Linked DNA regions of Homo sapiens: region 1 is linked to region 2. Evidence: fine-mapped expression QTL. A gene starts in region 2. The other region holds a variant in brackets. All regions are shown on one strand. Distances are from middle to middle.

Region 1 (2,914 bases), 37 kb after region 2:
TTAGTTTGTTTAAATTCCTTATAGGTTCTGGATATTAGACCTTTGTTGGATATATAATTTGCAAATATTTTCTCTCATTCTGTACCTTGTCTGTTTACTCTGTTGATAGTTTCATTTGCTGTGCAGAGTTTCTTTAGTTTAATTAGGTCCCATTTGTCAATTTTTGTTTTTGTTGTAGTTGCTTTTGGCATGCTTGTCATGAAATCTTTGCCAGGGCCTATGTACAGAATGGCATTTCCTAGGTTATCTTCCAGGGCTTTTATAGTTTTAGGTTTTACATTTAGTGTTTAATCCATCTTGAGCTGATTTTTGTATATGGTGTAAGGAAGTGGTCCAGTTTCAATCTTCTGCATGTGGCTGGCCAGTTATCCTGATCTGCTTGTATTTGGATAACAAGTTGCTAATGTGAAAAGATATCGTTATGTCATTATTTTTTTCCCGATATTTGAGGCATTTTCGCAGAAATATGCAGAAGTCATGCCATAATTTTTTTATGCCTTTTTGTATAGTTTTGGAGTAAATTTCTAAAAGGCTAAATTTCTACATATGGACTTACTCAAATTATAAATTTCAAGTAAATGGACAAATATTAAGGGCAGATATAGAAGAACAATTGATTTTGAGTAGGTTTGTGGGAAAGATTTTGTAGGTGATGGAAGATTGAGCATATTTGTAGTAGAGGGAATAGAGTTGTGGTGAAGGAAACAGCAAAGGTGTGAGGGAGGCAGGAGATTTGTTTATTAGGCTGCAGATTGTTGAAAAAAGTGGAAGAAAAATGATCAGGTTCAATAAAGGAGAGATGAGTGGTGGAAGCCAGAGAAGGGAGATACAAATATGAAAACTTTCAAGCTGGGGCATTTCCAAGAGATGATAGGCTGCAAAGTGGCTGAAGTGGATCATAGTTGTAGTTGTTTGACATTGAGAAGGTCAAGAAAAATGTGGTGGCAGATGAGGAGCTGTTGATTTTTGTCTTAGGTGGCTAGAGCTATTAAGGAATTTAGGATGTGTCCTGGAGCTCACCAGATGATGGAGATAAAGATGTAGGAAAGTGCATAAGGGAGCAAGTGTGCCTCAGCAGAGGATGCTCAGGGCTGGTGAAGGGCAATTTTTTGGCAGCAGCAGTGTAGAATATGCAACATGAACTCCTCCAGGCCACTGAATTAAGAGGAATGCAAGATAGCAGCTCCCACAGGATAGAAAACTGGGAGTGAGCATCATATAGGAAAATTGAGATGTCCAGTGCAGTCAGGAGAATGTACATCTTGTTTTGGTTGATATGGTTTGGCTGTGTTCCCACCCAAATCTCATCTTGAACTGCAGCTCCCATAATTCCCATGTGTCATGGGAGGGACCTGGTGGGAAGCAACTGAATCATGTGGTTAGGTTTTTCCCATGCTGTTCTCATGATAGTGAATAAGTCTCATGAGATCTGATGGTTTCATAAAGGGGAGTTTCCCTACATGAGCTCTCTCTTGCTTGCCACCAGGTAGCTGTCCCTTTGCTCTTCATTTGTCTTCCACCATGATTGGGAGGCCTCCCCTGCCATGTGGAACTGTGAGTCCATTAAACCTCTT[C/T]CCTTTATAAATTAGCCAGTCTTGGGTATGTCTTTATCAGCAGTGTGAGAACAGACTAATACATTGGTTCTGTCTTTAATTACTAACACTGTCAATGAGCACTAACAATGTGGTAGACATCATGCCGGATATTGGGAATTCAGAGATTTAAAACAATGCACCATTATGAAAAGTGGGTGCACGTTGAATACAGCTGAAGTTGGCTTTCAAATCTGACATAATCACCACCAGCTCTGTGGCCCCACTAAAGTTCTCAACTTCCCTGAGACCCAGTTTCTTCATGTATAAAATAAGAATACTAATAATTTACCTTTTAGGGTTGTTTTGAGGATAAAATATAAAGTAAATAAAAAGTCTATCATAGTGCTACCTGAGAGTTGCTATTATTATTGTTGTTTGTTATTGTTATTTTGGTTTCTAATATGATCATCTGTTGGCGCAGATGTATGTAACTAACAATAAGTTGGTAGAAAGACTTAGGTTAAATCCCCCCTGACAATTTTACTTTGGGAACTCTGGCATTGGGTTAAGATTTAACGAGCTACAGAGGCCAGGAAGTTTTGTCACTGAGATGAAATAGGGAGATAGATCACAGGTGGAGGTTAGTAACAACACTGCAGTTTGTGTAGTGATCGTGGGTGCAGCCTGGAAGTAAGGTCCATGGTCTGTCTTGGGAACACATTGGTAGAAGAAGCAATTGCATCAGAAACCAGAGAAACCATCTATCTGGGCTTCAGTTTCTCTTTTGTTGGAAAAATATACCTCCCTGCTCCTGTTTCATCATTGTGAAGATTACATGAGATAATGTAAGTGAAGGTGCTTTGACAACTGTGAAGGGTCTATCTATATCAGGATGATATGTTTATGAATATTTGTGGGCAGAATTTCCAGTGGCTGCTGTTTCCACCATCCTGATGAGACATGGAGAAAACGTTGTGCTGTTCTCTACAGGAGAGTAAATCCAAGAGTTAAAAAAAAAATTATTGAAACATTTGTGAATGGTAAGAAAGAAAAATTTTGTAGTTCTGAGGAGAGAGCTTCTCTGGTAACTTCTAGTGTTATTCATCACTAGAAAATATTTTGCTTAGTAACAAATACTGTAATAAGATGAAATGTGACAATTTTCTAAGCCATTCTTGGATTCTTCAAAGGAAAAAAAAACTTCCATTGTTTATTTGGAATAATATCAGAAAATAGAGCTTTCTTGTCTGCTAATATTTCTATTCAGACTCGTGTGGCTCTTCTCTTTAAGCAGCCAGCCATCATAGCACATGTTCATCCTTCCCTTTGCTTGTCTTTTTCCTGGTTGGAGCGGGTTCTCCTAATTTAGTTAGCTCTTT
Region 2 (2,914 bases):
ACGTCTCAGAATTTTCCAAATGACCATAGTAGACATATATTACATTTATCACTAGAAAAAAATACTATTAAAATACAATTGTCTGAGATAATCTTGTACTACTTTTACACTAAACTAATTTAGTTCAAATGTGGGGACTTCAGCTTTTGCTCCCAGATGAAAAGAGCTTGTCATTTTGGAGCAAAGGAGGGCGTGGCAGTTGGTCGGAGTGTTTCCTGGTGGCCTAGGAGACTGCCAGAAACTCACCAAGGGCCACCGGCCTAGGGGGAGGAGCAGAGGTGCAGGTGCAGGGAGGGATTCAAGAGACTGTGAACTAAACCTGGGTGGGTCCCAGTCCTCACAAAACCTGGGTCCTAACTGCAAAACTATGGTCGGGCCTGGGAAGGGGCGGAGGACTCACTGGCGCTCTAGCCTCTGTGCTGGGTGAATTAGTGATTAGGCTCTAATCTTCACAGTCCTCATGATTCTATTTTTGTAAGGCCAGCAGCTAAGAGTGGTTTTTACATTTTCAAAACAAAGACGAATACGCTACAGAGACAGTTCCAGGCCCAAATTCTAGAGTATTTGCTTTCTGGCTCCTTACAGAAAAAGTGGGTAAACTTCTTGATTAGAGGGTCTAGGCAGAAGAATTCTAAGGTATTTAAAATTTTTACCTGGGAATGCGCTTGCTGGTGAGGCGGAGCCGGCGTGAAGCCAGTGTGCCCAGCGGCACTGGTACCACGCGATGCTGGATTGCCTAGGCTGGTCAGACGGAGCAAATCGGAATCCACGGAAGAAAATTCACCTCTTAAGGATCCAGTCCGGAAAGGGATGGCCGGGCTCTTCCTGGGCAGGGGTGCCCAAATGGATGAGGATGCTCTCTGCAGCCCTCGGCGGATCGCAAAGGAGCAGGGCTCCGGTCTTCTATCTGGGAAAACATGGTTGTCACTCGTGGAGAAGCCAACGGAGCCCCTGCGGAGTTTTCTTTCCTTTTCTCTGCTGCAGGCAGAAGAAGCGCATTGCGCGGTTCGCCGGGCTGTCTGCAACTTTGGGAGCTGCGCCGCGTGGGTGCGGCCAGCCGACCGGCGCGTGCGCAGTGAGTTCTCAGCGCCTCCCGCCGCGCAGGCTCGGCGTTGGCCTCCGCGGCCCGTGCGAGTGCGCCCTTCTCGGGTCCCCTAGGTCGCGGGGCAGCCGGGGCGGAAGGGGCTTGTTCATTATTTTGAGAGTTTGTTGTGAACGTCATAACCTTTCGTCCTTAAATATTGCCGATACTTGACCTACGCAAGAGACAATGTCATGTGATTCAGCCTAATATCTCAGTATGTATCCCCTAAGAATAAGGGATTTTTCTACATCAGGGTTTCTCAACCCCGCGCTATGGACATTTTGGGCAGGATGAGTTTTTGCTGTCTGTACCCGTAAGGTGGGGTGACGGGGTGGGGTGGGGGTGTCCTGTGCTAAACAATCACTATTTAGCAGCATCCTTGGCCTCTACCCATTAGATGCCAGTAGCAACCCCCTCCCCCAGTTGTGACAGCCAACGATGCCTCCAGACACTGCCAAACCCAAACGGTGTGGTTGGGGGGGTTGAGGGGGGGAGGGGTAGTGGTGAGGGTTGGGGGAAAAAGGAGAGGTACAAAGTTGCCTCAATTGAGGACCACAGGATCACAATGCACATCATCATACTTAGGAAATGTAACATTGTTATATTACAATAATCTATATTTCATATTTGAATTTCCTCAATTGTCCCAAAATGTCCTTCTTTACCCTGTAGTTTGTAAAATGTAAATCCGAGATTTAACAAGAATCACATAGTGCATCAATAAGAACCACATATTGCAGTTGTCAAGTCTCTTTCGCTTCCTTCAATATAGAGCAGTTCCCTAGCCTTTTTTGTTTGTTTCTCCTGGTATTGACATTTTTGAAAAGTCTAGCCCGGTGGTCTTCCAGAATATCCTTCAATTTGGAGATGTCAGATTGGTTCCTCATTATAAGATTCACGAGTAATAGATATGTACACACAAACATATATGCAGGAATTCTACCTAGGTGATGTATCCAATTTTATCTATTTTCAAATGACTTTTTAGCTGTCATAACATTTAATTTATAAAGCACCTCCCTGACCAGCGATTTGCAATATTTTTATCACATACGTAAATTTCCACATTGTAATTGGGTCTAAGATATATTTTCTTTTTTCCCCGCATTGATCTTATTGTCTACTTATGGGCTAATATACTGTTTTTATTAGAGACTATATTTCAGTATCTGGTAGGGCTAGACTGCATCATTGCTGTTTTCTTAAGTGTTTTTTTAATGCTGGGTTATTTTTTCATGTTAACTATAGAATATAGCCCCATAAAAGTACTTTCAAAAAAAAAATCTTCTGCATACCTTTTCAGTTTATGATGTTGCATTTTCCTTTTGAAAAGCAAGGTTTATTTTTTCTCGTGCTCAAGTTTCAGCTTTGTGTCTTTCAAGGAAGCATCATAAAGGTTTTTCACTTGTTAAGTTTATTCTTAGAGTATTTCTCTTTTTTGTTGGTATCGTAAGTGGGATTATCTCTTCCACTTTTCCTTATAACAGCTAGATTCTTACATAAATGAAGGTACTGATTTCTATGTCTAATTTTGTATCTTGCTACCATATTGAATCTCCTGTTGCTTCTAGGAGTTTCATGTTGATTGTATCTGTATCTCTTTTTACACTTTTATATAATTGCAGTGATTATCCATTTTGAAGTTCAAATTGCCCGTCTTTGGCCATTTTTGGCTCCTTTGTTTATTTGACACAAGCTCGAATGTCTTGATAGCTTACTTGCTTTCTGACACTGTAAGAGTTCCAGTCTCATATTGTACATTTACTGCCTCAGACCTAGAATCAGCCATTTCTCAAAGGTGTCCTTGTTGCTTCCAGTGAAAAAGGTATT

Evidence for each region.
Region 1: its variant is fine-mapped to the expression of LINC00882 in lymphoblastoid cells (GTEx, PIP above 0.99).

Annotation. Positions count from the first base shown.
Region 1 is chr3:107,201,554-107,204,467 of GRCh38, reverse strand. The region is part of intron 1 of LINC00882 (long intergenic non-protein coding RNA 882); the gene reads left to right. Among named protein-coding and RNA genes, the nearest start is that of LINC00882, 38 kb to the left of the region's middle. The variant C/T (reference allele first, on the strand shown) is at 1,575.
Region 2 is chr3:107,238,827-107,241,740 of GRCh38, reverse strand. It overlaps LINC00882 (long intergenic non-protein coding RNA 882), which reads left to right and starts at 1,103. Exons shown (of 4, transcript NR_028303.1): 1 at 1,103-1,298. DUBR (DPPA2 upstream binding RNA) reads right to left here and starts at 1,049. Exons shown (of 4, transcript NR_028302.1): 1 at 654-1,049.